Regions from separate parts of the Homo sapiens genome. Here region 2 is linked to region 1. A link means that fine-mapping ties the variant in region 1 to the expression of a gene that starts in the linked region. Tissue or cell type: whole blood. Region 1 holds a variant in brackets; the other region holds the start of a gene. All regions are shown on one strand. Distances are from middle to middle.

The links. PIP is the estimated chance that this variant, and not a neighbour inherited with it, causes the effect.
Region 2: it holds the start of ABL2, and the variant in region 1 is fine-mapped to the expression of ABL2 in whole blood (TOPMed, PIP 0.98).

What each region holds. Positions count from the first base shown.
Region 1 is chr1:179,249,109-179,260,247 of GRCh38, forward strand. It overlaps the pseudogene COX5BP8. Among named protein-coding and RNA genes, the nearest start is that of ABL2, 25 kb to the left of the region's middle. RefSeq lists a silencer at 1,388-1,560. The variant G/A (reference allele first, on the strand shown) is at 5,261.
Region 2 is chr1:179,223,881-179,235,019 of GRCh38, forward strand. ABL2 (ABL proto-oncogene 2, non-receptor tyrosine kinase) reads right to left here and starts at 5,797. Exons shown (of 12, transcript NM_007314.4): 1 at 5,361-5,797. The coding sequence starts at 5,517. RefSeq lists an enhancer at 5,091-5,847 and a silencer at 5,303-5,712.

The DNA.
Region 1 (11,139 bases):
TCTTACTGTGTGCCAGCTGCTGTATCAGGGACTAAGGTAACAGCTGTAAAAAAGGCAGACAAAATTCCCTTCTCCTCAAGGAAACTGTAGTGTGGTTGGAGAATCCAGTAAAGAAAATTGACAATTAGAATATACTGTGCAATGAGTGCTAAAGAAGGGGAAATGACCTAAGAGCACAGAAGCAGGGCCAGGAAGGCTTCCCCCAACGTGGGAATCTGGAGGAAGGGGAAACAGAGGAAGGAAGCATTCTCCCCGCCCTAAGGAAGACCAGAGGGAGCATGGCACAGTGGGGAGCTGTGAAGTTTTCTATCACTTTTTTTTTCTAGCATTAGCAAATATTTGTGAGTGTTTGCTGTATGCTGAGTGATACAAGGAGCACAGAATAACTATGTGAGTGATTACAATACAGTGAGATTGGAAGACATAAGAACTCCAATTTCAGCTGGGCGCGGTGGCTCATGCCTGTAATCCCAGCAATTCGGGAGGCCGAGGCAGGCGGATCACAAGATCAGGAGTTTGAGACCAGCCTGGTCAACGTGGTGAAACCCTGCCTGTACTAAAAATACAAAAATTATTCAGGCATGGTGGCAGGTGCCTATAATCCCAGCTACTCGGGAGGCTGAGGCAGGAGGATTGCTTGAACCAGGTAGGCAGAGGTTGCAGTGAACTGAGATCACGCCACTGCACTCTAGCTTGGGCCACAGAGCAAGACTCCATCTTTTTTTTTTTTTTTTTTTTTTGAGACAAAGTTTCACTCTTGTTGCCCAGGCTGGAGTGCAATGGCGTGATCTCAGCTCACCGCAACTTCCGCCTCCTGGGTTCAAGCAATTCTCCTGCCTCAGCCTCCCGAGTAGCTGGGATTACAGGCATGTGCCACCACCCCTGGCTAATTTTGTATTTTTAGTAGAGATGGGGTTTCTCCATGTTGATCAGGCTGGTCGTGAACTCCCGGCCTCAGGTGATCCGCCCACCTCAGCCTCCCAAAGTGCTGGGATTACAGGCGCGAGCCACCGCGCCCGGCCTAGACTCCATCTTTAAAAATAAAAAAATATTGGGAGGCTGAGGCGGGCGAATTACCTGAGGTTGGGAGTTCCAGACCAGCCTGACCAACATGGAGAAACCCTGTCCCTACTAAAAATACAAAATTAACCGGGCATAGTGGTGCACACCTGTAATCCCAGCTACTCGGGAGGCTGAGGCAGGAGAATCACTTGAACCCAGGAGGCAGAGGTTTCAGTCAGCCGAGATCATGCCATTGCACTCCAGCCTGGGCAACAAGAGCAAAACTCCATCTCAAAAATAAATAAATAAATAAAATTAATCAGTCAATCAATCAATTGGGTGTGGTGGCATGCATCTGTAATCCCAGCTACTCAGGAGGCTGAGGCAAGAGAATCGCTTGAACCTGGGAGGTGGAGGTTGCAGTGAGCTGAGATCGTGCCACCGCACTCCAGCCTAGGTGACACAGTGAGACTCCATCACAAAAAAAAAAAAAAAAAAAAGTCCAATTTCAACACAGGAACAAAACACAGCATAAGAGATGTCACAACGGTGGAGATACAAATTCAGGTAATATTTTAAGTGACTTTGCTCATTGCTTTTATGTTCTGATTTTTTTTTTTAGATGGAGTCTCACTCACTCGCCCAAGCTGGAGTGCAGTGGCATGATATCGGCTCACTGCAACCTCCGCCTCTGGGGTTCAAGCCATTCTCCTGCCTCAGCCTCCCACATAGCTGGGATTACAGGTGCCCACCACCATGCTCGGCTAATTTTTGTATTTTTAGTAGAGACAGGGTTTCACCATGTTGGCCAGGCTGGTCTTGAATTCCTGACCTCAGGTGACCCACGGGCCTCGGCCTCCCAAAGTGCTGGGATTATAGGCATGAGCCATCATTCCCAGCCTGTTCTAACTTTTTTCATTTGGAAAAAACGTAAAGTTGTAGAAAAGTGTAATGAATACTCACATTTCTCCCCACTTAGATTTACCAACTGATGACCTCTTGCCACACCTGCTTTGTCTCTCTACATATGTATACACACATCTCCTTTTTGTTAAAACATTTGAAAGTAGGTTGCAGATGTCTTCCTACATTATTCTTAAATATCCCAGCTTGAATCTCCCAAGAACAGGAATACTGTCCTGCAGAAGCACAGGGTCCTAACACACTTAAGAAAATCAATATTAACTCAGTCACATCAACCAACATGCTCAAATTTCTTCACCTGTCCCAAATCCTTTTTTTTTTTTTTTTGAGATGGAGTTTTGCTCTTGTTGACCAGGCTGAAGTGCAGTGGCTCCATCTCAGCTCACTGCAACGTCCACCTCCTGGATTCAAGCCATTCATCTGCTTCAGCCTCCCACATAGCCAGGATTACAGGCGCCTACCACCATGCCCAGCTAATTATTGTATTTTTAGTAGAGAGGGGGGTTTCACCATGTTGGCTGGGCTGGTCTCGAACTCCTGATCTCAAGTGATCCACCTGCCTCCGCCTCCCAAAGTATTGGGATTACAGGCATAAGCCAGTGCGCCCAGCCCCCAAATTGTCTTTATGGCTCTTCTCCCAACTCATCACATTTAAAAGTTCTTCTGTACCCTTAATGTACTTCTACTGTGCCTGGAAAATAAATGTAACGTCATTAGGTCTGTTTCTTCCCTTAAGATAAGCTATACTTTAATATTTATTCTAGTTAGACTTACTGGGTATGTGATTTATGATTTATGATTGGATCTGTGAAGAAAACAATTTGGAAAGCATTCCTGGAAAGGCTACACATCACAGTTAGCCTCTAGATGTCCTCCTTGGATAGAAGAAACCTGCAGCTAGTAGCTTAACAAGGACTTTTCCAGAGCAGTCACTATTGAGCAGATGCATTGTTCCCCAGTCAACATAGATGAAAGAGTTTAATAAATGCTTCAGAATTCCAAACTGAATATAAATAAGCTCAATTTATATGGTTCTCCAAACATTTGGCACACCTGAACAAGGTTGTAAGCTGGAAGAGCATGAGGATAAAAAATGAGGTTGACTGTCCTGTAATCCCAGCATTTTGGGAGGCCGAGGTGGGCAGATCACTTGAGAACTGGAGCTCGAGATCAGCCTGGCCAATGTGGTGAAACCATGTCTCTACTAAAAATATAAAAATTAACTGGGCGTGGTGGCGCATGCCTGTAACCCCAGCTACTTGGGAGGCTGAGGCACTAGAATCACTTGAACCCAGGAGGCAGAGGTTGCAGTAAGCCGAGATTGCACAAACTGCACTCCAGCCTGGGTGACAAAGTGAGCCTCCATCTCGGAAAAAACAAAACAAAACAAAACAGCAACAACAACAACACAGAAAGAAATGGCCAGCCATGGTGGCTCACACCTGTAATCCCAACACTTTGGGAGGCCAAGGCGGGCAGATCACCTGAGGTCAGGAGTTCGAGACCAGCCTGGCCAACATGGTGAAACCCCATCTGTACTAAAAATACAAAAATTAGCCGGGCACAGTGGCGGGAGCCTGTAATCCCAGCTACTCGGAGGCTGAGGCAGGAAAATCACTGGAGCCCAGGAAGCAGAGGTTGCAGTGAGCCGAGATAGATCGTGCCACTGCACTCTAGCCTGGGCGACAGAGTGAAACTGTGTCTCAAAAACAAAACAAAACAAAACAAAAAAACAGAAGTTGATAGGACAAAAAGAGACCAGGGTAAGTATTCACAGACTTGTTTCTGCCACTTTCAGCTCTTTTAAAGGGATATCTATATGACTCAATATTGTGCCTTTGTTATACTCATTAGTTAAATGGGCAGAGAAACAGAATGGAATGAGCCTAAATGAGAAGCCATACAGAAGATGTCTGACAGAAATTATTCCAAAAGTGAGAAGAAGAGACCCAGAAAGGATAGGAGTTTCCAAAGAGACAAAGAAGAGCAATTTAGGAGAGTAGTTTCTATGATGAGTGGGACTTTGGGGGGAGATTTATAGGGGATTATAGAATATGTTGTTGTGTTAGATGGTGCAGTTCTACTTTATCTTTCCTCATATTTATTCCAGTTATAATAATAATAATAATTTACTGAATAGTAATTACTGTGTCAGACACTATGCTAAGCACTTTGCATACATTATCTCATGTAATCCTAATAACAAACCTGTGACCTCTCATTATCCCCATTTTACAGTCAAGAAAACTTAGTCTAGAGAAGTTAAGCAGGTCATCCAAGGTCACCCAATTAGTAAATAGCAGAGCTAGCGGAGCAAGGATGTGGGTCTTGGCTGACTCCAGAGCTTGTGTTCTTACGTGTTTTGCTATATAACACGATCATTTGTCACTGACATGTGGGATCTGGAAGCATATGCGAAAGTGTAAAGAGGCCATGCAGCCTACTTCAGCCTACTTCCAGCTGAGGCTGGAGTTGCTACTATGACTTCTATGTCATCAAGCCCTTAACATTCCAGGGTTTTAGATAGTCCTTGCATATTTTCAGAAAGTAACCATTCCTATCACCATTTCTTCACTCACATAAGAAAAATGGTATACTCCTCTGTCTCTCTGTCTTTTCAAAGGCTGGCATTTTTCTTTCCCACTGTTATTCTTCGGGAAAAGAGCCATCCGTGAGAAAGTGGCTAACATGACCTCTGTATGATTCAGAGAAATGTGTCCACCACAACCGAGATAAACTCCTTGTCCAGTGTGGTAAGCATAAACTGACACTTCCTCATCAAAGATGCCCACCTTCTAATCTCTAGAACCTGAGAATATGTTATCTTACATGGTCAAATGGATTTTGTAGATGTGACTAAATTAAGGATCTTGAGATGGGGCGATAATCCTGCATTAGCCAATGGGCCCAAAGTAATCACATGAATCTTTTTTTTTTTTTGAAACAGTGTCTCATTCTGTCACCCAGACTGGAGGGCGGTGGTGCAATCTCAGCTCACTGCAACCTCTGCCTCCCAGGTTCAAGCACTTCTCCTGTCTCACCCTCCCGAGTAGCTGGGACTACAGGCGCACGCCACCACTCCTGGCTAATTTTTTTTGTATTTTAGTAGAGATGGGGTTTCACCATGTTGCCCAGGCTGGTCTCGAACTCCTGAGCTCAGTCTGCCCGCCTTGGCCTCCCAAAGTGCTAGGATTACAGGCATGATTCACCGTGCCCGGCAATCACATGAATCTTATAAGGGGAGGGACAGGATATTGAGAATAAGAAGAGGAGGTATGACGATGGAAACAGAGGCCTGGAATAAAGCAGGGTTACAAGCCAAGGAATGCAGGCC[G/A]CCTACAGAAGATGGAAAAGGCAAGAAAACAGGCTCTCCCCTAGAGCCTCCAGAATTCATTGCAGCAGCAATAGGAAATGAAATGAAAACACTTTGTATAGGGATACATGAAGCCATGCTTGCTACTCTATGTCCATGAACACATTTAGAGGTAGACTGACTCCAGAAACTCAGTCATAGCACAGACTGATTGGTGGTAGAGTTCCTCAGTAGGCCAACTCCTCTACACATAAAGGAAAAAAGAGTTCCCCAGATCTCTAATAATGGCTAAAATTCAGACTATTCAGCTGGGCATGGTGGCTCACACCTATAATCCCAGCACTTTGGGAGGCCGAGGTGGGCGGATTGCCTGAGGTCAGGAGTTTGAGACCAGCCTGGCCAACATGGTGAAACCCCATCTCTACTAAAAATACAAAAATTAGCCAGGCGTGGCAGTGCACATCTGTAATCTCAGCTACTCGGGAGGCTGAGGCAGCCTACTTGAGCCTGCCCCAGCCGAGATCACACTATTGCACTCCAGCCTTGGTGACAGAGTGAGACTCCATCTCAAAAAATAAATAAATTAATTAAAAAATCAGACTATTCCTATCCTGTGCCATGTACTGTCCTAAGAGTTTATGTCTACATTTAATCTTCACAATGTTACTGACAAAGCTGGTTCCAGCTGTCAGGTGCCTGTTGCCAGGTCTGCGGTGAGGCAAAGGGCCTTCCCAAATAGGCCTTCCCTAATCTAGTCCAGTGTCCCATCTGGGTTGCCAGTTTTATGAACAACAAAGCTGGTCCCTATAAAGATGTGGTACTTTACTATTTGGTGTCATGAAGTCAATATACAAAACTAAAAGTGAGTGTCAACCAGTGCAGGCTTTATTCAATGGCCATGGAATCCAGAAGTGGGAGCCTGGCTCACTAATCAATGTCTCAATAAGTGAAAGGTGAGGGGACTAAAATTTAGGGCTTCTCTAATAATGGGGTTGGACTTTAAAAGCAAGGGGAGAAATACTCACATTTTTTCTGGAAATGGGTGGTGGGCTTCCCAGAACCATAGTGCTGCCTTCTTTTTTGTGCTTTTATGGCTTCTTCTGGTCACTGTCTTGGCAATTGTCAACTGTCATGGCACTAGTGGGAGTGTCATTTAGCATGGAAGTGAGATTATAATGAAGCCTGAGGTCTTCTTGAAGTCATTTGGTTGGCTATCTTGGTTCTAACCAGTCTCAGTTAGTCTGGTTACAAAGGGAACTTTTAATTGCAGGCATCCTGTTTCTTAAAGATAAACAAGAGTTTGGATACAGTAGGAATTCACCTATGTCACCTACATGTTATACCAGGTGACAAATCTCCCAGTGCTACTGCTTGTCACAGGTGTGATGGCTTCAAGATGCTTTGCAGACCAGAGCGCTGGCCACACAGGCCCTGAGGGCCCGCAATTCCAATGGAGTGGCCATGGTGTACTCCATGGCATCTGGAGGTGGTGTTCTTACTGATGACAAGAAGGCGGCTGGGTTGGAGAGGGAGCTCATGATGGCTGCACGGAAGGGACTGGACCCATACAGTATAATACCCCCAAAGGCAGCTTCAGTCACAGGGAACCCTAATTTGGTCCCCACCATCACCAATAAGTGAATAGTGGGCTATATCTATGAAGAGGACAACAGTGCCATCATCTAGTTTTGGCTACACAAAGGCAAGAGCCAGTGATATCCTAACTGTGGAACCTGCCCCATCAGGGGGCCCATGGAGCCTCTGTGTTAAGTTACTCAAATGTGCTATAAAGTCTTTTCTTTCCAATAAAGACTTGCATTGGCCTCTTCTCCCAAAAACAACAACAAAAAAACAAAAAACACAAATCTCCCTTTTTCTGTACATTCACTCCTCATTCTTTCTCTTTTTTTTTTCTTTGAAACAGGGTCTTGCTCTGTCACCCAGGCTGGAGTGCAATGGCATGATCATAGCTCACTGCAGCCTCAACCTCCTGGGCTCAAGCGATTCTCCCACCTCATCCTGCAGGATAGCTGGGACCACAGGTACATGTCACTACACCCAGCTAATTTTTGTATTTTTTTTGTAGAGATGGTGGTGGTGGGGGGGGGGTCTCATCATGTTCCCCAGGCTGGTCTCGAACCCCGAGCTCAAGTGATCTGCCTGCCTCAGCCTCCCAAAATGCTGGGATTACAGGTGTGAGCCATTGTGTCTGGCCTCAGTCCTCATTCTTGAGGAGTGCTGTGGAATGAAGGTCTGTCTTCTACAGCTTCTTCAAGCTGAGTTTGGGTGTTTACATGGGGCCTATTAGATTAGTGAAATTTTTTCCTAACTAGTCTTAGATAGGTCTGGTTATCTCCTGGGTGCAAATCTAGCTGTTTATATCCCTGTATGGCTTCAATTCACTTTATTTATTTATTTATTTTATTTATTTATTTTTTTTTTTTTGAGACAGAGTCTCACTCTGTTGCCCAGACTGGAGTGCAGTGGAGCGATCTCAGCTCACTGCAACCACCGCCTCCTGGGTTCAAGTGATTCTCCTGCCTCAGCCTCCCCAGCAGCTGGGATTACAGGTGTGTGCCACCACGCCCAGCTAATTTTTGTATTTTTAGTAGAGACAGGGTTTCACCATGTTGCCCAGGCCGGTCTCAAACTCCTGACCTCAAGTGATTCACCTGCCTCAGCCTCCCAAAGTGGTGGGATTACAGGCGTGAGCCACCACGCCCTGCCGTCTTCAATTTACTTAGACACAAAAGAGACCAGACAGTTTGAGAGACAGGGCCCAGAATCAAGAGAAGTAGGATGGCAGCTAAAGAGCCCAGGAAGGGTAAAAACCAGGTGAGATTAGGGATGGCCTATTTTATGATCTCCCATATTCCCTGAGCATTTGTGCCCTTTTCGTAAATTGGTGCAACCACTTGACCTGGTCATAGATAAATTTAATGTCTTTTTCTATTAATGTTGAATTATTTACCAAAGCACAACAGGAAGAGTTAGTGACTACACATATCCCACCTTGTTCTGCCAAGAGGTAATCAAAAGCCAAGTGATTGTCAAGCACAGTATTGGCTAATGAGTCTGGGAAGACTTTGAGGCAAGTAAGAGCATCACAGTCTTATAGGATAGAGTTTCTATAATTGTTGTGAGGTTGCACAGGGTAGCCTCATGCTAGGCAAGCCTTCCCTAGGGGGCAAGGAAACTGCCCACTATCTCGATATCCAGCCAGAATAGTAATCCCAGCACTTTGGGAGGCCGAGGTGGGCGGATCACCTGAGGTCAGGAGTTTAAGACCAGCCTGGCTAACATGGTGAAACCCCGTTTCTACTAAAAATACAAAAAAATTAGCCGGGCATGGTGGCACGCTCCTGTCATCCCAGCTACTCAGGAGGTTGAGGCAGGAGAATCATTTGACCCAGGAGGTGGAGGCTGCAGTCAGCCAAGATCGCGCCATTGCACTCCAGCTTGGGCAAGAAGAGCAAAACTCTGTCTCAAAAATAAATAAATAAATAAATAAATAATAGCAAGAGTGGACTGATCAACTTTTGGGGCTGCCCACTTGAGTATTTCATTAGCTAACAATAGCTGTTTTCTTAGCTCAGTGGTTCTCAAACTTCATTGTGTATCAGGATCCTCCCACCTTAGCATCCTGAGTAGTTGGAACTATAGTTGCACGCAACCATGCCTGGCTAATTTTTGCTTTTGTTTTTGTAGAGACAGGGGTCTCACTTTGTTGCCCAGCTTGATCTTGAACTCCTGGGCTCAAAGTATTCTTCCCACCTCAGTCCTCCTAAGTGCTGTGGGATTACCGATGTGAGCCGTTGTGTGCCGGGTCAGGATTTTAAATAATGATGCAACATGGTTAGCCTTTACCTCCTGCTCTTTTTATAGTATGATACCAAGGCTTATTAACATACTATAGGCATTCTCTTCTAAGATCTCGGGGGAAAACCTATTCTATTTACACGTGTATTATATAATATATTTATTTCACATTTAGCAAAAAAATGCAATCTAAAGATCATGATCATGGCTCATTGTTCCTTGACTTTGATGGGGATAATTGCAAGGCTGAGATTTTTCTCTCCATGTGGGTTCTCATCATTCAGCAAGCAGCAGCCAGTTTAAACTTCTTTACATGGCACCTTTGTTCCAAAACAGCAAAGGCAGAAGCTGCCAAGAATCTTCAGGCTCAGGCTCCAGTGCTCACACAACATCATTCTGCCACATCCTATTGGTCAAAGCAAATCACAAGGCCTGTCCAGATTCTAGGCCATAGGGTAATAGAGTCTACCTTTTGATGGAAGGAGAGGCAATGTCATGGACCATGAAAATGAGGACTCATGAGACTCATAATACTTTAGGAGTTATTATGATAACAATCTGCCACAGTTGGAGAGTGCGAATTATTTTGCTACATAGAGCTTTGATCAACTAAATATAAAATAATCTCTAGAAATTAGCATCTTTTTCTTTTAAATTATTCAAGGAAATTCTTTATCATAAATCTAGTAAGTCTTTAATCAGCATAACATATATCCCTGAGCCAACTTCAACCATTTTCACTGTACCTAAAAAGTAAAACTGCTGAAACTTCATCTAGAAATTGGCAAGAACTTTGCATTTTTCTTCTCCATTTGAATTCTGTGTCTGAAGTGTAGGACTCTCAGCACTATACACACTATCTGAACACTAATTAAAGGGAGGATATATAAAAGAGAAAAAAGAAGTGATTTTCATCCTTTATGAGGCAAAAAAGAAAGTATAAATTTTAAACACAGCAAATTTCCCTTAGATCTGTTCTTTTCTACTGTTTATTGAACATTGGCTCATTCTATATACTTCATGCCCACCCTTCCTTCCTTTCTTCCTTCCTTCCTTCCTTCCTTCTTTCTTTCCGACAGAGTTTCACTCTTGTTGCCCAGGCTGAGGTGCAGTGGGGCGACCTTGGCTCACTGCAACCTCCGCCTCCCGGCTTTAAGCGATTCTCCCCTCTCGGCCTCCCGAGTAGCTGGGATTACAGGCATGCACCACCGTGCCTGGCTAATTTTTGTATTTTTAGTAGAGATGGGGTTTCACTGTTGGCCAGGCTGGTCTCGAACTCCTGACCTCAGGTGATCTACCTGCCTCCGCCTCCCAGAGTGCTGGGATTACAGGTGTGGGCCATCATGCCCGGCCTACTTTGTGATTTCTTAAGAAACAATACATGCATCTGTATTGAGTTGCTGATGAATTTCAATGTGAATAATATTTATAGTTTCTCTTAATTGTCTTAGCACCTGCAGGTGCCTATGATTATTTTCTTTATTTATACTCTCCTTAACTATAGTGAGTCACTATTGAGTTCTGGGTAGCAAATTTAGCTTTAAGTTTCAGCTCAGCTGAAGCTAAATTTCAGAAAAAAAGAAAACAGTCTTGGGGCTGGGTGACAGAGTGAGACTTAGTCTCAAAAAAAAAAAAAAAAGAAGTCTTTGCATTAAATGGTTACAAAATTATCTGAAAATTTATAGGATGATAACAATTATAGGGATATAATAAACATGAAATGCAAAACTGGGCTATTTGCCTGGGCTCGTACTTCTTTTTCTTTCTTATGGTTTCTGTATATTTTGTTTTTTTTATCCTACTTATTTCATTAATGGCAGGACATCAAGTATACAAGAACATAAAAATTTGTTTCATCTGTCAAATGCAAGTTTGTATTAGGTAATCTCTTTGATTTTATGATTTTATTTGCTATTATGGGAAACGTTTGTGATTCATCCATGCAAGTGTTGAGTCTAATACTGACACTAAAGAATGTTTTGTCAGCCAGGCGCGGTGGCTCACGCCTGTAATCCCAGCACTTTGGGAGGCTGAGGCGGGCGGATCACGAGGTCAGGAGATCGAGACCATCCTGGCTAACG
Region 2 (11,139 bases), 25 kb before region 1:
ACTTTGGGAGGGCAAGGCAGGCAGATCACTTGAGCCCAGGAGTTCAAAACCACCATGGGCAACATGGCAAAACTCTGTCTCTACAAAAAAAAAAAAAAAATAGAAAGGCATGGTGGCGTGCACCTATAGTCCCAGGTATTCAGGAGGCTGAGAGGTGAGAGGATCACTTGAGTCTGGGAGGTCAAGGCTGCAGTGAGCCATGATCTCGCCAATGCACTCCAGCCTGGGCAAGAGAGTGAGACCCTACTCACTACAAAAAAAAAAAAAAAAAAAAAAAACTACAGATCCAAAATAAAAAATAAATAAATAAATCAGATCACTTAAAATAATGAGTTTGATTTAAGGAAAAATTTTTGTTATTCCAAACTTCATAATGTAAGGGTTTTTGTTTGTTGGTTTTTTTGGAGACGGAGTCTTGCTCTGTCGCCCAGGCTGGAGTGCAGGTGCGCGATCTCGGCTCACTGCAAACTCCGCCTCCGGGGTTCAGGGGATTCTCCTGTCTCAGCCTCCTGAGTAGCTGGGACTATAGGTGCCCGCCACCACACCTGGCTAATTTTTGTATTTTTTTAGTAGAGACAGGGTTTCACCATGTTGGCCAGGCTGATCTCGAACTCCTGACCTCAGGTGATCTGCCCACGTCGGCCTCCCAAAGTGCTGGGATTATAGGTGTGAGCCACCACGCCCAGCCTAAAGTTAATTTTTAATAGAATTTTTAGAAAATGAGAGAGGGAAGCTAAAGTAAAATCATTCAGCTGTTAAAAGGTATGTGAGATATTCAACAGCAAGTAAGTATTCAACCCTAGATTATTAGTCATGAAACATCAGCTCACCAGAAAGGTTTAATAGCAGAGCTTGCCTCTCGCAGTGGCTCACGCCTATAATCCCAGCACTTTGGGAGGCCGAGGCAGAGTATCACCTGAGCCTAGGAGTTTGAGACCAGCCTGAGCAACATAGTGAGACCTCCGTCTCTACAAAAAAAAAAAAAAAAACACAAAATTACCCAGGTGTGATGGCGTGTGCCTGTAGTCTCAGCTCCTCGGGAGGCTGAGGCAGGAGGATTGCTTGAGTCCAGGAGTTTAAGGCTGCAGCGATCTACGATCGCAGCACTGCACTCCAGCCTGGGTGGCAGAGCAAGACCTTTCTCTAAAATAAAACATAAAATAAAAGAGTTGACAAAAAAAATAGCAGATCTCAGAAAAGTCACACAGCACTCACTCCTTTCATACCAAAAATGGCTCTATTATTTTTGTTCCTTCTAAATTACATTCACAAAAATCACTTTTGGCAAGGCAAATTATTATCACAGCTTACCCACATATTATTAACGATAAAAAATGACCATTTTAGCTAAAGAAAGAAAAGTCCTGGACTCTGATAAACCATTTCCATAATGTATGTACCTTTTTACTGATTAACTAAATGTATTATTTGGCTTATATTAAAACCTACATGTAAACCCAAGAGTCTAACAGACCTAACATTCATATATGAAATTATGTGCTAATACCTCAATATGGCAAACTCAAGACAGTAATTTGTACACTAGATTCGAGCACCTACATTTACCATGTAAAGGTCAAATGATACATCCACTGAGAAGCTTTCGAATCTAATTCATTCATTCATTCATTCAATTCAGAATCTATCACATTTCTAAGTGGTGTCCTCAACTAGGGGCAATTCTGCCCCCCAAGAGATTTAACAATGTCTGGAGGCATTTTTATAACAAGTAAGGGGCAAAAAGAAGGTGCTACTGGCATCTAGTGGGTAGAGTCCAGGGATGCTGCTAAACATCCTACAATGCACAGGACAGCCCCCCAAAACACAGAATTAGCCAGCCCAAAATATCAATGCCGCCGAGGTTAAGAAACTATGACGTGGCCGGAAGCGGTGGCTCATGCCTGTAATCCCAGCACTTTGGGAGGCCGAAGAGGGCGGATCATGAGGTCAGGAGATCAAGACCATCTTGGCTAACACGGTGAAACCCTGTCTCTACTAAAAATACAAAAAAAAATTAGCCGGGCGTGGTGGCAGGTGCCTGTAGTCCCAGCTGCTCGGGAGGCTGAGGCAGGAGAATGGCGTGAACCCGGGAGGCGGAGCTTGCAGTGAGCCGAGATCGCGCCACTGCACTCCAGCCTGGGCGACAGAGTGAGACTCCGCCTCAAAAAAAAAAAAAAAAAAAAAAAAAAAGAAACTATGATGTACAGAAAAAAACTTTTTAAACCCATCTGTCTAAAAAACAGTACTCACTGCACCTTTGTTTCCTATATTATTTGCTAATTCCTTTCTTTTCATACTAGTCTTTGGCAATAAACTCGACCTATTCCCATTTTTTCAATCAGCTTCTAACTTCCAAACTTGTCAATAGAATCTTCATCATCCCAGTTAGCCAGGTTCTAAATCCTGGTGTCATCTTTGAATTATCCCTACTTTTTTTTTTTTTTTTTTTTTGAGACAGAGTCTCGCTCTGTCACCCAGGCTGGAGTGGCGCGATCTTGGCTCACTGCAACCTCCACCTCCCGGGTTCAAGCGATTCTCCTGTCTCAGCCTCCTGAGTAGCTAGGACTACAGGCGCGTGCCACCATGCCCAGCTAATTTTTCTATTTTTAGTACAGACGAGGTTTCACCATGTTGCTCAGGCTGGTCTCGAACTCCTGACCTCATGATCTGCCCACCTCGGCCTCCCACAGTGCTGGGATTACAGGCGTGAGCCACCGCACCTGGCCGAATTACTCCTGTTTTTAATAATAACAGTAGTATTAGTAATGGCAGCAGCTACACACATTTAGCTCATACTATGTGCCCAGCCACTATTCATTTAATACTAGGTACTATTATTATCACCACTTTACAAATGAAGAGTCCAAGACACAAAAAGTTAAATAACTTGTCCCAGGTCACAAAGCTCATAAGCAGCCAAGCAAGGTTTCAAATCCAGGAAAAATGGGTCCAGAGTTCATGCCCTTAACAAATACTCCAAAGTGATCTCTCTTCTTTCATCCTCTATCAAATCATAAAGTCCTTTAAGTTCCAAAGGGCAGGGACTCTGTTATGTTCACAGCAACATTCCCACAATCCAGTACATAACAGGTGCTCAAAAAAAACCCTTGTTTGTTGAATGAATGAAAGGACCCTTGAAATTACTCCTCCCATTTCCACTGCCACCACTCAAGGCCAGTCTTTCAGGTAAAGACTAGCCAATCAGGTAAATGGATATAAACTTCTCTGCCAGATTTTCCATAACCCAGTCCCATCCAGCCTATCAAAATTTTCTTTCTACTGCTTCTTAATTAGAATCATAAAATCTTAAAACCAGAAAGTATCTTAGAGATCATCCAGTCCAACCTCCTCACTTTACAGATAAAGAAACCCAAAGATGGTGACTAAAATCACCCAGGCAGGTGGAGCCAGAACCAGAACTTGACTCTTCCAATTTTTGCTCTATGATCTTTTTCTTCCAACTCATAATGATGCTTCATTCCTGACAGCTGTCTCCTCACTAGCCCATCAACAAATTATATCTATTCCCATGTTCCCGTTCAAGTTGTTTCTTCTACCCAAATTGTTCTCCCTCTCCATAGATCCAAATCCTCAAAATGTCTTCCTATTCCATTCTTCATGACTTCCTCTTTCTTGGAAAATCTTACATACCGAATAAGATAGTAAAGCAAGAGGATCACCATTGCCTACTAGGCCAAGTTTAATGCATAGTAACACTTCCCACAAAGTGAAGCTTACTTGGATGATTTCTTCCCTGTAAACTACTAATCCATTCTTCCATCCTGTGTTTTAGGAAGTGATTTTAATAAAGATTAGCTCATATATCACCTTCATAAAGTGTTCATATACCCGAAAGAGACACTCAAGCACATCTTCAATAGGAGACATGTGGCCAGGCGCAGTGCCTCACGCCTGTAATCCCAGCACTTTGGGAGGCTGTGGCGGGTGGATCATGAGGTCAGGCGTTCGAGACCAGCCTGGCCAACATAGAGAAACCCCACCCTACTAAAAACACAAAAAATTAGCCGGGTGTGGTGGCGGGCGCCTGTAATCCCAGCTACTCCGAGGCTGAGGCAGGAGAATCGCTTGAACCTGGGAGGCAGAGGTTGCAGTGAGCCAAGATCACGCCACTGCACTCCAGCCTGGGCGACAGAATGAGACTCCGTCTCCAAAAAAAAAAAAAAAAAAAAAAGAGTTTGGGCCAGGAACGGTGGTGGCTCACACCCGTAATCCCAGCACTTTGAGAGGCCAAGGCAGGCAGATTACCTGATGTCAGGAGTATATGACAAAATCCCACCACCACCAAAAATACAAAAATTAGCCGGGCGTGGTGGTGCACACCTGCAGTTCCAGCTACTCGGGAGGCTGAGGCAGGAGAATCACTTGAACCCGGGAGGCAGAGATTGCAGTGAGCCGACATCCCGCCATTGCACTCCATCATGGGGACCAAAGCGAGACTCTGTCTCAAAAAAAACAAAAACAAAAACAAAACAAAAAAACAAGACAAAAAAAGTTTGGAGACAACTATTCTAAAAATACATTGACAATGAGATCAAAATAATAGGTTTCAGACTACAGGGAGCATACATACATGTATGTATGTATATGGGCACACGCACACACTACAAAGGAAAACTTGTTCATATCCTGACTGACGTCCTAACCATGCCCACCAACCTCTAGCCCTTGCCAGCAATCTCAGAATTGTGTGTCCTACTCTGAAGCATAGTACAGAGGCTTTGGCAAAGCCTTTCATTTCTAGTAAAAACGAAATACAAAACAAAATAAACCACAAAAGCATGTCAAAAGTGATAAGATGATGCTAACTTCATCTTCCCTACAGAAAAGCATTTGACACTGTCCACAGTTCACTATCCTGACACTGCTCATCACCTAACGTAAACACATACCTTGTACTCCACAATCTCCTGAAATTCAGTTCCCATTTCCCAATCCCTTAGGATACAACCCATTTCCCCTTCACTAACGACGGGTTTATGCTCCCACCTCTGGGACTGAGCTAATACTGCCCTTCATCCTTCCCTCTCCTGAAGCTGCCATTCACTTTCTTTCTGCAGCCGCATAGTCCCGTCCCAGAGTAGAGGACAGACCATCCAGGGTCCCCAAACCCACTTCTCTTTCCTTCTCCGCCCCCGGGATCTGCCAGCCAGGCTAGAGACGCGAGGGGGGAGGGGTGTGACTCGCCTCCCAGGACTGGACCAGATGGCAGCGGATTCCGCCCCCACTCTCAGGCACCTTCCACCCTCCGACCCCTCGGGCAGCCCGTCCGCCACCCACCCCGCCCCGACCCCACCCCCGGCCTCCCCCACGCTCTCATGCCGGCTCCCAGACACACTCACCATGCTGGGTGAAGATATTGAAGCCGGTCTCTGTGGTGCGCCCCGCCGGGTCCCGCCTGCGGCCGGAGGGCCTGGCTGCACTGCTGCCCCGGATCCCGCGGGGCTGAGGCTGCTGGAGCCCCGGAGCTTCCCCGACGCGGCCCACCTGCTGCCCCATCCCTGCTCTCGCGTACTCCCGCGCCCCCGCCGACCCCTGGTCACATTCCTCCTCGGCTCCGGCCTCGGGCTCCTGGCGCTGCTCCGGTCTCTCCCTCCCAGCCCAGGCCCTGGCCCTGAGTGGCTGGGCCACCGGCGGCTCCGCACCCGGCCTCCTCACGGCAGCCGCCGCGCTGCCTCCAGGCGACTCACAGATTCTGCTTTTCCCTCCTCCTGTCGCGGCTCCGCGCCCCCAACGCCGCCGCCGCCGCCGCCGCCACCGCCGCCGCCATCTTTAAACCACCGAGCGCTGGGAAAGCGTGGGACAGAGCGTCTCCCGCCCCCCGCCCCCCGCCCCCCGCCCGCCAGTCACCTCCGCCGCGGGGAAGGAGGGCTTCCCGGCTGCCGCCCCGCCCTGCCGCGCCGCGCCCCCCGTCCCCGCCCCCGCCTCCTCGCAGGGTGGGTCCCCCAGTGCCCACCTCATTTGCCGGCCACCGCTGCTTGAGGTCTTTCGTCCTCCGCGTCCTGTCGCCGCACCTCGGCGTCCCCCCCCTCAATCCGCCTCAGCCGACCCCCTCCCGCGTTCGGCTCCACACGCTACCGCCTTTGGGGTTGGTCGGTCTCCGGCCTTCCCCATCCCACCTCCACCTGTCAAATGAGTGAGTCGAGGGCTCAGTGCCACCGCGTGCGCAGCTCAGGTGCAGGCACAGGTGGGGCAGAAAAGCACAAGGCATTTATTTGGTCCTTGCCATCCAGTTAAGGAGCTCTAAAATACCCAGGGGGATCTCTTTTAAACACCCTTGTCAGCAGCAGGCCTCCAGTAAAAATTAAAATGGTATAAAATTTACAAGAAGAGAGTAAAATGCTACCTTATTTGATTTTAATTTTTGGAGATTATTTCATGATGTTAAATCGCACTGGCCTGGATTGTGTGCCTTCTATAGTCTCATTGGGGACGCAATTGTAGCCCCATTCCTCATATTATATTACCATGAATTCCTCTTGAACTCCTTTACCATCTCACCATATGTGAGTTTCTGTTTCCTTACAATGCCTGACAGTAAAGTTAATCTTCCCACTGGCATCCTTTATACACTGTGCACGTGGTCAGGTCTTCTTTTGATGACAAAGGAGAAAAAATATATATCTTTGACCCTGTTTCTGAGTCAGAACTTACTCATTTTAGCTTATGCAGTCTAAAGAGAGTGAATGAGGCAGAAAAGAAGCGTTTTATACATACACATATACTATATACAATTGACTCGCCATCCCCCTCTCCCACTGTGTTTACTTGCATCTTAATTCAATTTTTTTTAATTCTCAAATCTTGATCATTCTCCTGTTATTCTTTTGGCTTCCCAATTTGCTTTATAAAAAGTATCAGTTAATGGAGGTACTACACTGAAATTTTGCTTAAATTAGACAGGACGGGAGCCACTGCAAAGAAGGAACAAAACAACCACTGGAAATGTAGGGTTGGGAGAAGAGGTGGATGAAGCTCTCCTTTGCATATCTTTCCTGAACCAGGTTGACCTTAGATGAACCATCCACTGACGTAGATATTGCCTGTTGTAAAAGCACTATGAAATTATTCCATTGCCATCTAGGGTGTAGCCAGAAATAACTGAAATTAACTCCAAAATGGGAACGGAAACACTATGTGTAAACACTGGATAAAATATGAACTTTCCATTTGGATTAAAGTTTCCCTGTGTTTAAAATACCTGTCTTTTCTTCTAATTCCCAGTGTTTGCAACTACTGAAAAAAATTCATTCGAAAGGGATAAAGATGTCACAGAGCCGGAATTTGGTTTACTGTTTGATTTTTATTATGGGAGAAAATTTTAATTTGGGGATAATGGTTTGGTTTCTCTGCTAATTCATGCATACTATATAAAGATAGATGAATATATGGGTTGAACATCTCAAATCTGAAAATCCAAAATGCTGCAAAATTCGAAATTTTTTGAGCACCAATATGATGCCAGAGGTGGAACATTTCACGTAAGTACTTAACATAAACTTTGTTTCATGCACAAAATTTTTAAAATATTGTATTAAATTGCATTCAAGCTATGTGTATAAAGGTGTATATGAAACATAAATGAATTTTGTGTTTAGACTTGGGTCGCATGCCCAAGATATCTCATTATGTGTGTGTAAATATTCCCAAATCTGAAACACTTGTGGTCCGAACATTTCTGATAAGGGCTGCTCAGCCTGCAGTAGAGTGCAGTGGCTAAGGGCAGGGGCTCTGAAGCCAGACTGCTTGGGTTCATAACTTGGCCCTGATACTTATGGACTATTTGATCTGGGCAAAGTACATAACCTTTTTGTGTCTCAGTACATTATCTGTAAACTGATGATGATAACAAATAGTATCTACCTTATAGGAATATTGTGAAAATTAAATTAGTCAATATATATGTATAGTACTTAAAACAGTATTTGGCATATAACTGGTGTCATATATGCATATACTATTAATACAAAAAACATAATGGTTTTAGGTTTTACAAGCCTAACTTTTTCAAATTTTATATATATATATATATATAAATTTGAGCAATGGCCAGAGGCCAGCATAAAAGATCAGACACATCACCAACAGCAGTAAGGCGTGCTGAAGACACAGATACTCTTCATCCTCATCATCCTTATCACAGGAGCAACACCACTCTCTCCAGAAGGAAGGAGCTTGTGAGTAATGCCTCACCAATCCCTGACTTCACCAGTCTGCATTTCTAGGCTATTGCCATACTTTTTACAGTTTTACAGTATCTCTCATATCTACCTCTTCCCTTCATCTATATAAACAGCGTTATGTAAGACACAGTGTTAGCTTAGGCATCTCTGCGCTGGTTTCTCCCGCTACTAGCCCTTTCTTCCTAGAGATTCCTCACCTTTAGCACCAAGCAACTCACTCAAAGAAACTGCTTCTCTCATTGCTTTGACCACACTCTCCCTCTCATTCATTACGTACAAAGTCTTAAGTCTAAAATTTTCACCTAATGGGCCGGGCACAGTGGCTCATGTTTGTAATCCCAGCACTTTGGGAGGCCAAGGTGGGCGGATCACTTGAGGTCAGGAGTTTAAGACCAGTCAGGCCAATATGGTGAAACCCCGTCTCTACTAAAAATGCAAAAACTAGCCAATCGTGGGGGCGCGTGCCTGTAATCCCAGCTACTGGGGAACCTGAGGCAGGCGAATTGCTTGAGCCCAGGAGGCGGAAGTTGCAGTGACAGGAGATTGCGCCACTGCACCCCAGCCTAGGTGACAGAGGGAGTCTCTGTCTCAAAAATAAATAAATAAATAAATAAATAAACAAAATAAACGTTTCACCTAGTGTTTCGAAGTTATTTTCCAGGATAACTGGATTATAATTGCCTAATGTTCTTCCATCTCCTGTTCCTCCAACCTCCACCTTTCCTATGGCAGGCATACATACTTTATCCAATTAGCCTATTTCTGAGATGTATCCCTTTTAGCTATGAGTTTTGCAATAATTATATTCTCCCTAATATAAGTCTCGAGTGACTCCCTTACAGGATTCTACTGTCCTCTTCAGTATTCTATTCAGATCCTGCCTCCTTGATAAGAGAACCTCAGACTTATTAATACAGACCTAACAGTTTCCTCGGACTCTATTCAGTACAGGCCTTAACCACAACTGGTAATAATTCTTTCGTTATAAAATTCGCTTACCTTCCTCTACATCCCTCAAATATGGTTTTTTGTTTTTTGTTTTTTGTTTTTGATATGGAGTCTCGCTCTGTCCCCCAGGCTGGAGTGCAGTGGCGCGATCTCGGCTCACTGCAAGCTCCGCCTCCCGGGTTCACACCATTCTCCTGCCTCAGCCTCCCGAGTAGCTGGGACTACAGGCGACCACCACTACACCCGGCTAATTTTTTGTTTTTTAGAAGAGATGGGATTTCACCGTGTTAGCCAGGATAGTCTCGATCTCCTGACCTTGTGATCCATCTGCCTTGGCCTCCCAAAGTGCTGGGATTACAGGCGTGAGCCACCGCACCCGGCTGTTTTGTTTTGACACATGACTCAAGTGTCATAGAGTTGGAAAGAAACTTAGAGGTCATGTAGGCTAATCTGGAATCCTCTCTGCAGTAATTCCAGTGAGGGTATCCATTTCTTTCAAAAGGTTCTAATTATTAAAACATACTTCCTGGGCCAGGCGCAGTGGCTCACGCCTGTAATCCCAGCACTTTGGGAGGCCAAAGTGGGCGGATCACAAGGTCAGGAGATCGAGACCATCCTGGCTAACATGGTGAAACCCCATCTCTACCAAAAATACAAAAAATTAGCCGGGCGTGGTGGCAGGCGCCTGTAATCCCAGCTACTCAGGAGGCTGATTCAGGAGAATGGCATGAACCCAGGAGGCGGAGCTTACAGTGAGCTGAGATCACACCATTGCACTCCAGCCTGGGTGACAGAGCCAGACTCAGTCTCAAAAAAAAAGTTCTTCCTAAAGATAAACTGAAAAATGTTCCCCTGAAACTTCCACCTGTTTCACCCCAGTTCTAATTCTACCATGTAGCTACACAGAACAAATATAATCTTTATTCTACATGAAATCTTTCACATATTTGAAAGCTATCATGTTTCCCCAAATCTTTTATTTTCTTGCATATATGCATGTTTATATAGTTATGTTTATCTATCTATATTTATCTACGTGGGCTGAAAATGTTTATGTAGATAAATTGAGAGAAAAAAATTTTGTTGTAATTTTACGTATAGCATTTTCCTTTTTCTTTTCTTTCTTTTTTTTTTTTTTGGAGACAGAATCTCACTCTGTTGCCCAGGCTGTAGTGCAGTGGCATGATCTCGGCTCACTGCAGCCTCCGCCTCCCAGGTTCTAGCGATTCTTCTGCCTCAGCCTCCTGAGTAGCTGAGATTACAGGCGTGTACCACCACACCTGGCTAATTTTTGTATTTTTAGTAGAGATGAGGTTTCACCATCTTGGCCAGGCTGGTCTTGAACTCCTCACCTCGTAATCCACCTGCCTTGGCCTCCCACAGTGCTGGGATTACAGGTGCGAGCCACCAGAGCCTGGCCAGCATTTTTCTTAAACTGTTTATGTACACAGTTCTTTGGACTTTGTTTATGTGATTTGTCTCTGCATTGTTGTATTAAATCTTTAAAGACCTATAGAGTGCCAAATACAGTTCCATTTACAGATTGACACTTTAAAAGTCTTTTTGGATGAGATAACGAGGAGGAGGAGGAGTTAGAAGATTCCTATCTGGCTGGCACAGAATTAGTCATTCTCTTTGAAAGTAGGGAGACAGATTAAATGACCTCTTGTTCCTTTTAGCCCCAAGAGTGTATGATTCAACATTTCTTTGATTTAAAAAACCTTATAAATTATTAGGAGACTATTTCGAACAACTGGCCAAGTGCTGTATAAATGTTACCAGTAGCAATAATATCTATTCATTTAAAATTAATAAGTTATTACTCATTTCCCTTTCAAAGGTAATGAAATAGCTGACTAAACAATCCATTTAACATGTAGCCTATCACTAACTGTAGTGTAGTGATAGTTAATTATTGATGTGGGCCTAGTTTATTACTGATGTGAAATGGGTTGTTTCAGTTCTCTACTGCTGCATAACAAAACACCCC